Linked DNA regions of Homo sapiens. The protein of the gene in region 1 interacts with the protein of each later gene in a biochemical or structural test. Each region holds a gene or a part of one and is shown in the gene's direction. Other genes may lie near its edges.

Region 1 (7,887 bases):
TTATTAACTTCATTTATTTTATTTATTTATTTATGTATTTTTTTGAGATGGAGTTTCACTTTTGTTGCCCAGGCTGGAGTGCAATGGCGCAATCTTGGCTCACTGCAACCTCCACCTCCTAGGTTCAAGCGATTCTCTTGCCTCAGCCTCCCGAGTAGCTGAGATTACAGGCATGTGCCACCACGCCCGGCTAATATTGTATTTTTAGTAGAGACGGGGTTTCTCCATGTTGGTCAGGCTGGTCTCAAACTCCTGACCTCAGGTGAGCCGCCCGCCTCAGCCTCCCAAAGTGCTGGGATTACAGGCGTGAGCCACCACGCCTGGCTAACTTCATTTAAAGCCTACAAAACTCAGTGTGTGAAAGCAGCTGAGGTCGGCTGTGAGGCCTGAGTTTTGGTGCATAAGTTGCTAGGGCAGCTGCTGTCCCTGCTCTCTGTCTTTATTTCTTCTCTGACCTCACAGGATGCTGTCAAGAACTAGAAGCCGGTCAGGCGTGGTGGCTCACGCCTATAACCCCAGCACTTTGGGATGCCAAGGTGGGAGTATCATCTGAGGTCAGGAGTTCGAGACCAGCCTGGCCAACATGGTGAAACCCCATCTCTACTAAAAATACAAAAATTAGCTGGGCGTAGTGGCGCACGCTTGTAGTCCCAGGTACTCTGGAGGCTGATGCAGGAGAATCACTTGAACCTGGGAGGCGGAGGTTGCAGTGAGCCAAGATCGTACCACTGCACTCTAGCCTGGGAGACCTAGCGAGACTCTGTTTAAAAAAAAAAAAAAAAAAAAAAAGAACTAGAAGCCACATATGTAGCGGGCCCAGTCTCGCATTGGACTCACAGAAGCTGCAGTCTCAGTCAGAACCAGGAACAGAAAAAGGACTTGAAATAGATTTAGGCAGGCCAGGCACGGTGGTGCACACATGTAATCTCAGCACTTTGGGAGGCTGAGGGGGGCGGATCACTTGAGCCCAGGAGTTTGAGACCAGCCTGAGCAACAGGATGAATCCTGTCTCTACAAAAACCACAAAACATTAGCCAGGCATGATGATGCACACCTGTAGTCCCAGCTACCTGGAAGGCTGAGGTGGGGGGATCACCTGAGCCTAAGGGTTGGGGCTTCAGTGAGCATGATCATGCCACTGCACTCCAGCCTGGGCAACAAAGTGAGACCCTGTCTGAAAAAACAAACAAACAAACAAACAAGAAAACAAATAGACAAGCACAAAAGGGAATAAATTTTTGGCCTACATAACTTAAAAGGCAGGTGAGTCTAGCTTCAGGAATGGCTGGATCCAGAAGCTCAGGCTGGAGTACAGTAATGTGATCTCGGCTCACTGCAACCTCTGCCTCCTGGATTCAAGCTGTTCTCCTGCCTCAGCCTCCCAAGTAGCTGGGATTAGAGGCATGTGCCACCATGCCCAGCTAATTTTGTATTTTTAGTAGAGATGGAGTTTCCCTATGTTGGTCAGGCTGGTCTCAAGCTCCTGACCTCAAGTGATCCACCCACCTTGGCCTCCCAAAGTGCTGGGATTACAGTTGTGAGCCACCGTGCCAGGCCTGGTTCTGTTTTCCTCTGTGTGGGTCCACTCTTTTGGCCCAGCTGAACTAATCTTTTGTTTTTTTTTGAGACAAAGTCTCCCTCTGTTGCCCAGGCTAGAGTGAAGTGGCGCTATCTTGGCTCACTGCAACCTCCACCTCCTGGGTTCAAGTGATTTTCCTGCCTCAGCCTCCCCAGCAGCTGGAATTACAGGCGTGTGCCACCGCGTCTGGCTAATTTTTTTTGTATTTTTAGTCGAGATGGGGTTTCACCATGTTGGCCAGTCTGGTCTCAAACTCCTGACCTCAGGTGTTCTGCCCGCCTCTGCCTCCAAAAGTGTAGGGATTACAGTCATGACCCAGCGCCCAGCCTGTTTTTTGTTTGTTTGTTTGTTTGTTTGTTTGAGACAGGGTCTTGCTCTGTCACCCAGGCTGGAGTGCAGTGCATTATCATAGCTCACTGCAGCCTCCATCTCCCAGGCTCAAGCAATCCTCCTGTCTCAGCCTCCTGAGTAGCTGGGATTATAAGCAGGCATCACCACGCGCAGGTAATTTTTTTATTTTTAGTGGAGATTAAATCTCGCTATGTTGCCCAGGCTGGTCTCAAGCTCCTGGGCTCAAATGATCCTCCTGCCTCGGCCTCCCAAGTTCTGGGATTACAGGCATGAGCCACAACACCCAGCCTGGCCTGAACCAATCTTGATGGCCAGCACAATGGGCTATGCTGATTGGCCAAGACTTCCACCTTAGGGAGGGGTGTTTGTGTGGTGGGAGAGTGGTGAGACCAGCCATTCACATCTCACAGACTGAAAGTCAGAACCAGTGTTCCCCAAATAAGGGTTGTTGACACTAAAAAGTTGAGGGAGTGGGTGGGGTTGAGAGAAGGAATATGCTTGTTAGGCAAAAAGTATAGGAGCTTACCAAAGTGCGCAAAATCATATCAAGAAGGAAGATGGCCGGGTGCGGTGGCTCATGTCTGTAATCCCAGCACTTTGGGAGGCTGAGGCGGGCGGATCACCTGAGGTCAGAAGTTCAAGACCAGCCTGGCCAACACGGTGAAACCCTGTCTCTACTAAAAATACAAAAAGTAGCCGGGTGTGGTGGTGGGTTCCTGTAATTCCAGCTACTTGGGAGGCTGAGGCAGGAGAATCACTTAAACCCCAGAGGCAGAGGTTGCAGTGAGCTGAGTCTGTGCCACTGCACTCCAGCCTGGGAAACAGAGACTCCGTCTCAAAAAAAAAAAAAAAAAAAAAATCCCATAAAAATTAGCTGAGCATCATGGTGCATGCCTGTAATCCCAGCTACTTGGGAGGCTGAGGTAGGAGAATCGCTTGAACCTGAGAGGCAGAGATTGCAGTGAGCCAAGGTTGCGCCACTGCACTCTAGCCTGGGCGACAGAGTGAGACTCTGTCTCAAAACAAAGATAAAGTAGGGCAGTGGCAATATCCAAGGCATTCTAAATGAAAATCGATATATATATATATATATTTAACATGAGCATTTTATTACCTGTTGTAAAGCATGAATCAAAGCATGTTTGGAAGATGTCAGCATCCCCTCCAGCCATCCTCAGTCCAATAAAATGTGTGCTTGTTGTGCCATTAGAGCCATCATCAATTCCCCCAGCTGACCTTCCTAGCTTCCACCCAGCCCATACTCTGAAATCCCTGCAGCCTCCTGAATATAAACTTTCAATATTGGTGGTTGGGGGTCCCTCTCTTGAGGGAGGGAGGGTTAGAGTCCCTCCTGCTTCCCTGGCTTACCACTCTGCCATCGGGGGAGTCTCTGCTCCTTCCTTCACTGCTGAGTCTTGATGGGATTTCTGGACCCTTCTGTTAGCACCTTGTTGCAAAATAGAGATCCTTGAACAAGACTGGACTGGAGAAGTATGCAGAGGGAAGGCTGAAGCTCTGTAACTCCAGTTCTTTGGGCTCAGGTATCCAGAGAATAGCAATATGCCCATTGCAAGGGAATGGGAAAAAGTAGTCGTCGGCTGGACATGGTGGCTCACGCCTGTAATCCCAGCACTTAGGGAGGGCGAGGCGGGTGGATCACCTGCTGTCAGGAGTTCAAGACCAGCCTGGCCAACATGGTCTTTAGTCTCTACTGAAAATAAAAAAATTAGCTGGGCGTGGTGGCGCCTGCCTGTAATCCTAGCTACTGGAGAGGCTGAGGCAGGAGAATGGCTTGAACCTGGGAGGAGGAGGTTGCAGTGAGCCGAGATCGCACCACTGCATTCCAGTCTGGGCGACAAGGGCAAAACTCGGTCTCAAGGGAAAAAAAAAAAAAAAAAAGAAAGTCGTTAAGGGCAACAGCTAGGTTTATGGACTGAGAGAGCCGATTGCAGGGTTCAGGTCTTAGCTAAGATAACTTTCCGCCTCCCTGTCTGTGGTGGCTGCAGGAGCCTCCCTCCCTAATGTTCTGTGGCTGGCCACTGGTCTTATTTACCGCATCACATTTACCTCCATCTGAAAAGTTCTTGGTTATTTGTGTGCTATGTCTGCCCCCTCTCTGACTGTACACTCCATAAGGGCAGGGATCACCTCTGCTTGTTCACGCCTGTACTCCAGTTTGCCTGGCACATAGTAGGTGCTCAGTAAATATTCCTTGAATGAATGAATGCATGAGTGACCAACGCCCTAGTCTGTTTTCAGAGCTCTTAGTCCAAACCCAGGTTCAACTTGGGGTGCCACCAATCCTTGCGGGGGGGGGTGCCTGGCCCCACCCTTGTGAATTGGGAGGATCTGGGTCAGGCCGTCTCCCTCTTGGGGGCTCCAGTGCCCCAGCCGATCCGCGGTCCTTGTCCAACAGCCCAGAGGCCGCTGTCCAGCGGGCCAGGAGGCGGATCACTGCGTCGGCGTTGAAATTTCCACTCGCGCTCCACCGCCCTTCCCGCGGGCCCCGAGCGCGCGCCTGGGCGCGCGCATGCGCCTTCGCCCCCGCGCCGCGCGCCGCTCCTGTGCGCCTGCGCCGCGCTCACGACCGCCGGCGCGCCTGCGCACTGCTCGCCGCCCGTGGGCCCAGCCGGCGCTTGCGCGGTGGCACGGGCGAGTGGGGGGGCGAGGAGGTGGAGGAGGAGGAGGAGGAGGAGGAGGTGGCGGCGAGAAGATGGCGACTTCGAACAATCCGCGGAAATTCAGCGAGAAGATCGCGCTGCACAATCAGAAGCAGGCGGAGGAGACGGCGGCCTTCGAGGAGGTCATGAAGGACCTGAGCCTGACGCGGGCCGCGCGGGTAAGGGGGCTGCCCGCGCCGACCCTTCAGGGCCGGCGGAGGGAGGGAGGGGGCGCGTGTCCGGCGCGTGCACGGGGCGGGGTGGGGGGGGGCGCGGCGGGGGCGGGGCGCGCGCGGCGGGGGCGGGGCTTGGCACGGCCCGAGGGGGACAGGTGTCCCCACGCCCCGGGCGTCGTGGGCGGGACAGGTGACCCCACAAAATCCATACCTGATGGGGTACAGGTGCCCTGCATCACTGCTCCCCGGAGGAGACAGGGGCCTCTATATCATTACTACTAGGAGGGAACAGGTGCTAGTACCTCGTCGTTACCTGACAGGGGACAGGTGTCCCTACATCATTGTTACCCGAGGGGGACAGGTGCCCCACATTATTACTACCTGGAAGGGACAGGTGCCCCCGCATCATTGCTACCTGGGGGGGCAGGATGACACAGGTGTATGAGCTGGGTGCTGCTTGCAAGCACCATTGGTAGCTGGGGGTGAGGGTGCAAGTGCCCCCGCATCCTTGCTACCTGGGAGGGACAGATGCCCTCCCATTCTTGCTACCTGAGGGGGACCGGTGTCTCTACGTCATGGTTACCTGTGCCTTTACTCCCTGGGTGTTGGGGGAGGAACGGATGTCCCCACTTGCAGAGCTGAGGTGGGACAGGGATCTCTCCCTCTTGGACAGCTGAGGGAATGGTCAGATCCTGTCCCCCAGGGGGTCCAGAGGGGGGCCAAGAAGGCAGATTGTGCTCAGTCCTGGAACTTGGAGTGGAGACAGCTGCCCCTTCTCCATGTAGCCCATATGGTGGGGGCCAGGTGATGTTCCTCCCAGTGGAACAGGGGATGCTGACCACAGCCCCTGCCCTCTCAGGACCAGGGTGGAGGGCCAGGTCTGCCTCAGGTGGCTGGGCGCATTTGGTGTGCAGGGGCAGGCCAGGTTCTGCCAGGCTCCTGTCTGGCAGAGCAGATACCCTGCAAATCTCACCTGGGAAGTTGCTGTGGGCCAGGAGCAGGGGCTTGGGGCTGGTGTCTGAGCACGGCAAGGCACCCGAGTTCCTCAGGCCTCAGTTTCTTGTCAGGCATTCTAGCAAGACCTTCCTCTTGGGGCAGGGTGGTGAGCACACTCTGCAAAGGTGATGCTGAATCTCCACTTTGTTCTTGCAGTGTGGTGAGACCTCTCTCCTGCATCCTGGGGCCTTGGGGAGGGTTTGGGTGGGCTTTGCAGATGCTCGTATCCCTGGTTTCCAGATTCAGCCACTGATGTGACTGGCTCAGGTAGACTTAACCTCAGTCTCTGATTCCTTAGGTAGCACTTTCAGTCTGTGTTACTTTGTAACTAGTTGTTTGTTTCTCTGAGAGATTGTGACCTTATAGACTAGGATTTGTGTCTTCATTTCTGTGTTGGTAATGATTGGGAGCTCACTGTCACCCAGGTACTGCTTTAGGCATGCTCGGTGAGTGTGCCACATCTGTCCTCCCAGCTCCAAGCAGCTACATTCTTGCTCAGGATGTAGAGAAAGAGATGGCTGGTGAATGAATGAATGAAAAAAAAATAAGAAAATGGCCAGGTGTGGTGGCTCATGCCTGTAATCCCAGCACTTTGGAAGGCTGAGGCAGTGGATCACCTGAGGTTAGGAGTTCGAGACCAGCCTGGCCAACGTGGTGAAACCCTGTCTGTACTAAAAATATAAAAATTAGCCGGACGTGGTGGTAGCTACCTGTAATCCCAGCTACTGGGGAGGTTGAGGTGGGAGAATCACTTGAACCTGGGAGGTGGAGGTTGCAGTGAGCCGAGATCATGTTACTGTACTCCAGCCTGGGTGACAAGAGTGAAACTCCATTTCAAAAAAAGAAAATAAGAAGAAAGTGTGCAACTTGAGCATCCTTCCACGTGAGTGTCCCCCACATATCAGGGCTTCTGAGGCAGGAGTGGCCACTTCTTTTTGTCTCCAGCACATGGTGTGTGCTGGCATGCAGTTGTTGTCAAATGTTTGCAGTGTGACCGGAAGAAAGGGGTCACAGTAGGTTCATGGGTGTCATTCTGATTAGAAGTCCAGTTTCTGCGTGGGATTGGAAATAGATTATTGTTGTTGAAAACATCTCTTTAAAATAATAGCTTTATTGAGATATGATTCACACATCATACAATTTACTTGTTTAAAGTGTACAGTTTGGTGGTTTTTAGTATATTCACAGAGTTGTGCAACCACCCCTATTTTGTAATTCCAGAACATTTTTTATCCACCCAGAAAGAAACCCCGTCCCCATTAACAGTCACTCCCCATTCCCCCTCCCCTAGCCCCTGGCAAGCACTAAGCTGTCTTCTGTCTCTGTGGGTTTTCCTATTCTGGGCATTTTATATAAATGGAATCACACAACACGTGGCCTTTTGTGACTGGCATCTTTCACTCAGCGTCATGTTTTCAAGGTTCATCTCTGTAGTATCATGGATCAGTGCTTCGTTCCTTTTTAGGGTCAAGTAATATTCCGTTGTATGGATATATTGTATTTGTTTATCCATTCATCAGTCAATGAATTTAGAAAAATTCTGAGGCCAAGTGCAGTGGCTCACACTTGTAATCCCAGCACTTTGGGAGGCCAAGGTGAGTGGATGACCTGAGGTCAGGAGTTCGAGACCAGCCTGGCCAACATGGTGAAACCCGTCTCCACTAAAAATACAAAAATTAGTCGGGTGTGGTGGCACATGCCTGTAATCCCAGCTACTCGGGAGGCTTAGACAGAAGAATCGCTTGAACCTGGGAAGTGGAGGTTGCAGTGAGCTGAGATTGTGTCACTGTACTCCAGCCTTGGCAACAGAGTGAGACTCCATCTCAAAACAAAAACAAAAACAAGATTCTGAAGATATGCAGGTGGCAGTTCTTTCAGCCCTGGAAACCATTTCCCATCTTCCTCATCACCTGGGGTCAGGGGAGCATGGGCTCTGGGCAGAGGTGAGTTCACACTAGATTTTTAGACACAAAGCATTGTTCTCTTTCTGGGGCAGGGGGTGATTCTGCCCCCCAGGGGACACTTGGTGATGTCTGGAGACATTTTGGGTCATCATGATTAGGGAGTGCTTCTAGCATCTGGTGGGTGGAGGCTGGGATGCTGCCCAACCCCCTACATGTAGTGC
Region 2 (7,854 bases), on another chromosome or scaffold:
ATAACAAAACATATGTAAATAAGTATGTTATGATCTGTTTTTCAAAAGTTGTGTTTATTCATCTTTAATATTTAGGCATTTTTCACATAATGAATTATCTTAGGTATTAAGCTTACTTTTAGCTAATTGGCCCATAATGTCAAGACCATTCACCCTTTCCTCACTGTAGGGACTCTGGCTTTTGGGGCATGGTATTGACGACGATAACAGCATATACTATAATTCTACGTCTACATTTATCCTTTGCTTACTCGAACACAAGCATTTTTTCTTCAGTTGTTTGATTTGTCCACTCCATTCGTTTTACAGTCCTACCTGTTTTGTCTAGTTTTTTAAACCTTTTTATACAGACAAAAACCAATTAAATGTGTTTTGCTTATTGCTCTTGTCTGTAAGAGAAATACTCTATATCTCTTGAAACCTTCTCCTGGTGCTTTTTTTGATTTGTTTTTTGTTTGTTTGTTTGTTTTCTTAATCTTGCTCCAGTTTTTCTCTTTAAACTACCTTAATATGAATACAGAGTTGAGGTTTTCACAGTTTTTTGGCGTTTTGGTAAGCATGTGGGACAGTAGAGGCATAGAATGTATGTATAGCCATCTAGTGACTTAATGGAGCTTATTATTAATTTTACCTGAGCTAATAAATATTAATGACTTTGGATAATTATCAGTTAAACTTGAGTATAAAATTCTTCCTTATGATGCTTAAGTGGCTGGATATATTTGAAGTTGTGAAGGATGGTAAAGATTTCAGAAATGTCCAGTTTTTACGTAGTAATCAAAAATGATGCTAAACTCAAAATGCTCTGGGTCCATAAGCTTTTCTTTACATTGAATTCATCGTGTGTGTTTGATACAGGTGTTTGGAATGGAACTCGTTGGCTGCTTATTTTCTAGAAACTGGAATGTGAGAGAGATGGCCCTCAGGCGTCTTTCCCATGATGTCAGTGGGGCCCTGCTGTTGGCAAATGGGGAGAGCACTGGAAATTCTGGGGGCAGCAGTGGAAGCAGCCCGAGTGGGGGAGCCACCAGTGGGTCTTCCCAGACCAGTATCTCAGGAGATGTGGTGGAGGCATGCTGCAGCGTTCTGTCAATGGTCTGTGCTGACCCTGTCTACAAAGTGTACGTTGCTGCTTTAGTAAGTAGCTTTATTCCATAATCATATCATTATGGGTTTGGGGTTTTTTGATGGTTCGTAGATAGTGTTTTTAAGATACAATAAAGCTACTTTACCTAATTTTGGAAAATCCAAATTTTATTTTTATTCCATAATTCCAGGAAATTACAGCTTTTGTTTTGTTTATTTGAATTTTACTGATTTTTATGATGTCCAAGGTTTCTTATATAACTGTTTTACTTTTTAGTTTCATTGTTTTAAAGGCTTTGCAGGGGTATCCAAGGGAGAGAATATAGTCATGGTTTCTTAGTTTCTGTTTGGGCCAGTAAAGCTCCTTCCTCATCCTCCTTTTCCACTTACCACTAGAGACAGACTAAAAACCATGGCTTCAGGCTGCTAAAGCCTAAAACAAAACAAAACAAAACAGAACAACAACAAATAGGGTGAGCTAGACAAGCTTGCTAATTTTTAAAGATTTTTTTAATGTCTTGCTGTTCATATCTGTACATTTTTCTGAGCAGATACCTTATACATGACCAAATTAAAAATGCTTTTTGGGATGGCAGAGTCATCAACGTTATTCTGATTTTTTAAAAAATTTATCAGATATTAAGGAAGATATGTTTTTAATAAACATTTTGATTGATTTTTAATAAACATTGTCATGTGGAGATTCAAAAGCCTTTTCAAAGAAAAGGGTTCCATGACATAGATCATTGAGTTGTTTTCCAGTTTAACCTGTTAAAAGTTCTTTCATGGGTGGAATAGAGTGACAAGGAGGTAATTTAGGAGACTAACTGGACTTTCTCCATTCTGCGTATATGTCTCTTTAGGGCTTCTCAGCCTCAGTACTATTAACATTTGTTAGATAATTATTTGTTGGAGGGTGGGGGGAGGGCCAGGGATGTTGTCATGTGTGTACTGTGGCAGCATCTCTGGCCTCTACCCATTAGATACCAGGAGCAAACCCACCCCCACCCGATCATGCCCCCAGTTATGACAACCAAGAATGTCTCCAGGCATTGCCAAATGTCTCCAGTGGTCAAAACTGCCCCCAATTCAGAATCACTACTTTAATTCTTATCTAGTCTGTTCTTAAAATTCATGAGCAGTCTGTAGGCTTCCTCCCTCAGTCTTTTTCTAATGCATCCTCTACCGATTGGGCCTAATGAATCTTCTTGACAGGTAATACAGCATGACAGTTACGAACATGGGTTTGGAGTCACAATTGAGTGATCTCATAATTTATCATTCCAACCACAATGCTTGCATAATGTGCTGGTTAAAGTTGGACTAGCCTAGGCAATCTGAACACATGATCAAGATCATAGAGACAGACCTGGATTCAAATTCTGGTTCTCCCTTTTACTAGCACGATGGCTTTATGAAGGTTACTTAACCTCTCTTAAATAAACTTCAGTTTTCTCACCCATAAAATAATGAAAATACCTTTTAGGTTTGAAATTAGATTATGTAGAAACTTTCAACCATATGCCTGGCACATTGTAAGAACATTTAATATTATATAATAGTTATCATTATTTCTTAAACACAACTTGGATTATCCCCCAAATCATTTAGAAACCTTTAGAGGTTTCTGTTTCTTTGACATTCCTAAAGCATATTCTGTGGAAGTTTGGCAGGGTTGTGAAAAGTTCCCTGAAGAAAGAATCCCGTATTCAGTTAAGATTGGTGAACACTGGATTACACAAGGATAACTAGGTCTGTTGACTGAAAGGCTTCTAGGATCCTTCAGTAAGCTAATGTACATTGTGAACCTAAAGGATCAAAGGATAGAATGCATTGTTTCCCAGAGTTATTTTGCTACACCTTGTTTTTTCATGTAGCATCTGGAGGGACCAGCATACTATAGAATAAAGACCAATTGGCCCAATATTTTGCCTCTTACTTAGTATTTTCCAACACAAACCTTCAGGCATACTTGACTAAATAAAATCCTCTTTTTGCTAGTTCCTTTTCTGCAAAGCCTTTGCTGTGTTACTCTTTTTGTACACACCGTAACTGCCTTACTGTTGTGGTTGTTTCTTCTTAAGTTCAGACTGTTTCCCAACTAGCTTATGAGATCCTAGAGCACAAAGATTGTATAAAGGATACCAGGCTCCATGGAGGCAGAAATGGCTCCTGCTGTTAAGGCTCACCCTTTCCCTTTCTCTTATCTCCCCTTCCTCTGTCTCTTCCTTTTTTTCCTCTCCCTCCCTCTGCATATATAATTTTTTTTTTTTTTTTTGCTGAATCGTTTGAGAGTTTTTTGCAGCATCATGACACTTAAATATGTGTCTCTTAAAACCAAATACATAATTCCATTTATTCTTCCATATACAGTCAGCACATTAACATTAATCACAATACTGTTTTGTACTATAAAGTTCATACTCAAATCTCTTCAGTTGCCCAACAGTGCCCTTCATAGCTAAACTGCAGACTTTATTCAGATTTCACCAGTTTTTCTGCTGTTGTCTTTTTTCTGTTCCAGGATCCAATCCAGGATCCCACAGTGCATTTAGTCACCATGTCCCCTTAATGTCTTCTCATCCATGACAGTTCCTCAGCCTTTCCTGGTTTTTAATGACCTTGACAGATACTTTCAAAGTTTACTGGCCAGTTATTTTGTAGAATATCCCTCAATTTGGGTTTATCTGATGTTTTCTCATGATTAGATGGAAGTTACGTATTTTTCACAAGAACGCCACAGAGGTGACAGGCCTTTCTTAGTGCATCATATCAGTGGGTACATATGCCCATGGCTTTTATTATTGGTGATGCTGTCAGTTAAGGTAATGTCTACCAAGTTTCCCTGCTGTAAAGTTAATATTCCTAAATATCTTGTGAGAGTTACTTTGAGATTATGCAAATACCCTATTTCACCTCAAAATTTTGTCCACTGATTTTAAAAGCATTTGTGGATCTTGCCTATAGCAGTTATTACTACACCATTAAAAATGGTGCTCTCTTGGGCACAGGGAGGGGAGCATCACACACTGGAGTCTGTCGGGGGTCGGGAGGTAGAGGAGGGATAGCATTACAAGAAATACCTAATGTAGATGACGGGTCGATGGATGCAGCAAACCACCATGGCATGTGTGTACCTATGTAACAAACCTGCACGTTCTGCACATGTACCCCACAACTAAAGTATAATTTAAAAAATGGTGTTCTAGTGGTGATTTTCTATTTTCCTCATTCCTTCTACATTAATTAATTGGAATTATTCTATAAAGAAGAGCTTCTCTGTTTATATACCTATTCAATTTTTAATTTGTATTGGTGTAGGCTCCTGGGTATTCATTTTGTTCTGTGGGTTGCAACCCAGTACTACCATCATTTGTTTTGTTGCTCTAATTATTCCAGCCTTGACCATTGGGAGCTCTTTCAGGTTGGCGCCTGTTCTCATTTTCTTTTTTAAAATAATTTTTTTTAACTTTTCATCTTGAAATGAATTCAGACTTTTAAAAATTGCAGAGAAAAGAGTTCAGAAAATTCCTTCCTGCCCCATTCATTTATTTTGTTAGTTAGTTGTATTATTACAGAAGCATGGAATTCTTATTTTATTCTATGGGTTATAATCCATTCCTGTCTACTTATTTTGTTGCTCAAATTGTCTCAAATTAGGCCATTATCTCTGATGCTTTTTAAGTGTACATAAACTGACCTTCAGATTTTTTTCCTTAGAAAACATTGAGAGCCATGCTGGTATATACTCCTTGCCACAGTTTAGCGGAAAGAATCAAACTTCAGAGACTTCTCCAGCCAGTTGTAGACACCATCCTAGTCAAATGTGCAGATGCCAATAGGTAAGGCTTTATTGATGAATCACTTCAAACCCTCTTGTCTTAAAAGTGCCTCGCAGCAAGCCTCACACCTAGTGTGAATATCTGATACATTTTATTAAATGAGTCTTTGAACATTGTCTTTTAATGTGAGATTTAAAATGAAAATGCAGCATAAAGCTCTTAAGGACTGGCGGAAAGAACTACTGGCAAGTAAAAGCCAGGCAAACAAACTGCATGGATCTCCACATTATTGTATTGTGATTTACTCTCTTTAGTAACATTCATAATCTGAAGACCAGTCGATAAGAACAGTAGTTGACATTTATATCTATAAGTTATAATCTCATATTAGAGTATGGGTTACACAGAATAGGAACCAGTAAGATCATTACACCTGCATATGCCTTATTATCAGGATAAAAAATTAACAAATCCATCTCATTTTCAGTGTAGTGGAATTTTACTCTACTTATGACAGTTTTGTCAAAAAATTTTTAGATTTTTTATATTCCTGCAATATCCTTAAAAATTGACAGGGAACAAGAATAACCCTAACTGGAAAGAAAAATATGAAGTAGAGAATTGAGGTACAATGACAGTAAAGATGAGTACAAGCCATGCTTTTTTCAGACCAATGGTTCTCTTTTATTTTCCCCTTCCATAAAATAGGAGGAAAAGATCAATTTTCATTTAATAATCACAGCTACTGTGAACAGTTATTTGGTAGTTCCTATTTCTTTCTATCCCAGCAGATCTTGGTTAGCAAGAAGTGTTGAATCTCCCTTCTGTTGCCTCTTCCATTTCACCCATTTAGAGTTCTCTCAGTACAACCTTTCTCTTCCTCTGCAAGTCATAATGACTTAGTTTGCACAGGATCTCAAAAATTAGGTACCTACCTTTAACGAATTTCTCATATCATGAAGTCTGTCTTTTGCCTCTATTGTTTTCTCTATAGATTGAAAATATTGGATGTTTCCTTGTTGCTTAGAGAAAACATTGTATATCTGTAAAATATTGCAAATTAACAAGTAATTTGCAAAATGCATAGGAAAAATGTCATTTTTAAATATTAGAATAGGTATATTTCTGAGAATTCAGTGTTCTCATGGTATTTGTTATGCTGCTCACTTTTTGAAACTCCAAACTTAGGTTGTTTACCTGGTCACCTGAATGACTGAACATAAGAAATACTGTAGAGAGATTTTATAATATTCAGACCTCATTTTGGCTATGTAAGGAAATGGAGGGTTTTTGGATAGGAAGGTTTTGTTTTTAATTCAAGAGCTTCTTAGTGAAAGTTCAGAAATCAAAATATCAAGGTCCTTGTTTTTTCTTTTAACAAAATATAAGACTTTTATCTGATTTGGTATTTAAATCAGTACTTGCAAAGAGCCATTGTTGAAAATTCTGTGCTTAACATAGGGGATATGTTAAATTTACGAAATTAGACCTAATAAATGAATATTACTACTTATGGTGACATTGTTAATATGATTTTAGTGGTGGAAAAGTAAACACTCCTGAAAACATTATTTCTCCACTTTTTCACAAGGCATTACATTACTCCTCTAATATTGTATAGTGTTTTAGCCAAGATCCAGGATTGATGTTGCTTTTCCTTTGTTTTTAGCCGCACAAGTCAGCTGTCCATATCAACACTGTTGGAACTGTGCAAAGGCCAAGCAGGAGAGTTGGCAGTTGGCAGAGAAATACTAAAAGCTGGTAATAACTTTTCACTTAAAAGGAATATAGCATATTTTATCATGTTCCTGAGCAGCCTTGTCTAATCTCATAATCTCTCATGAGGCAGTTTACAGGATTTTGAAGTAATTTTATAAATTGATTCACTGTGTTACAGTTAGAAATGTGAATTACTCTGAGAGAGAAATTCTTTAAAATAGTTCAGAATATTTTTGTTGGCCTTACACCATTTAATCATGTCTTGTTTTAGATTTTAATATCACTATTTTTTAATCATTTATTTTTACTTTCCTTTTTGTAGGATCCATTGGTATTGGTGGTGTTGATTATGTCTTAAATTGTATTCTTGGAAACCAAACTGAATCAAACAATTGGCAAGAACTTCTTGGCCGCCTTTGTCTTATAGATAGACTGTTGTTGGAATTTCCTGCTGAATTTTATCCTCATATTGTCAGTACTGATGTTTCACAAGCTGAGCCTGTTGAAATCAGGTAATTTTTCTTCTGAAAATGTATTACTTGTATCTTCCTACCCTCCCTACACCCTCCTCAAGAATGACACATTTTAGATTTTTGAAAGACTCAGAGCATGAATAGGTTGCTGATACCTTAATATTTGATTGACATATGAAAACCCAAAGTCTGGGCTCTTTAATTAAAAATTCATAGATACTTTATGCTGAAATGGTTTTTGAAGTATACATGCTGTAAATTACTACCATTTTTTAAGTTTCCATGTATTTTTCAGTAATTGGAACTTATATGGTAATGAATGTTTTTTTCTTTCAGGTATAAGAAGCTGCTGTCCCTCTTAACCTTTGCTTTGCAGTCCATTGATAATTCCCACTCAATGGTTGGCAAACTTTCCAGAAGGATCTACTTGAGTTCTGCAAGAATGGTTACTACAGTACCCCATGTGTTTTCAAAACTGTTAGAAATGCTGAGTGTTTCCAGTTCCACTCACTTCACCAGGATGCGTCGCCGTTTGATGGCTATTGCAGATGAGGTGGAAATTGCCGAAGCCATCCAGTTGGGCGTAGAAGACACTTTGGATGGTCAACAGGACAGCTTCTTGCAGGCATCTGTTCCCAACAACTATCTGGAAACCACAGAGAACAGTTCCCCTGAGTGCACAGTCCATTTAGAGAAAACTGGAAAAGGATTATGTGCTACAAAATTGAGTGCCAGTTCAGAGGACATTTCTGAGAGACTGGCCAGCATTTCAGTAGGACCTTCTAGTTCAACAA

The links.
Region 2: of the proteins of CRTC1 (region 1) and MAP3K1, one has a biochemical effect on the other in vitro, tested with the Homo sapiens proteins (one study listed by BioGRID).

Annotation. Positions count from the first base shown.
Region 1 is NC_000019.10:18,679,060-18,686,946, forward strand, and holds the start of CRTC1 (CREB-regulated transcription coactivator 1), read left to right. Parts: upstream 1-4,620; 5' UTR 4,621-4,643; coding exon 4,644-4,769; intron 4,770-7,887. UniProt on the Homo sapiens protein: Transcriptional coactivator for CREB1 which activates transcription through both consensus and variant cAMP response element (CRE) sites.
Region 2 is NC_000005.10:56,874,174-56,882,027, forward strand, and holds part of MAP3K1 (mitogen-activated protein kinase kinase kinase 1), read left to right. Parts: intron 1-858; coding exon 859-1,137; intron 1,138-4,806; coding exon 4,807-4,928; intron 4,929-6,537; coding exon 6,538-6,629; intron 6,630-6,909; coding exon 6,910-7,099; intron 7,100-7,396; coding exon 7,397-7,854. UniProt on the Homo sapiens protein: Component of a protein kinase signal transduction cascade. Activates the ERK and JNK kinase pathways by phosphorylation of MAP2K1 and MAP2K4. May phosphorylate the MAPK8/JNK1 kinase.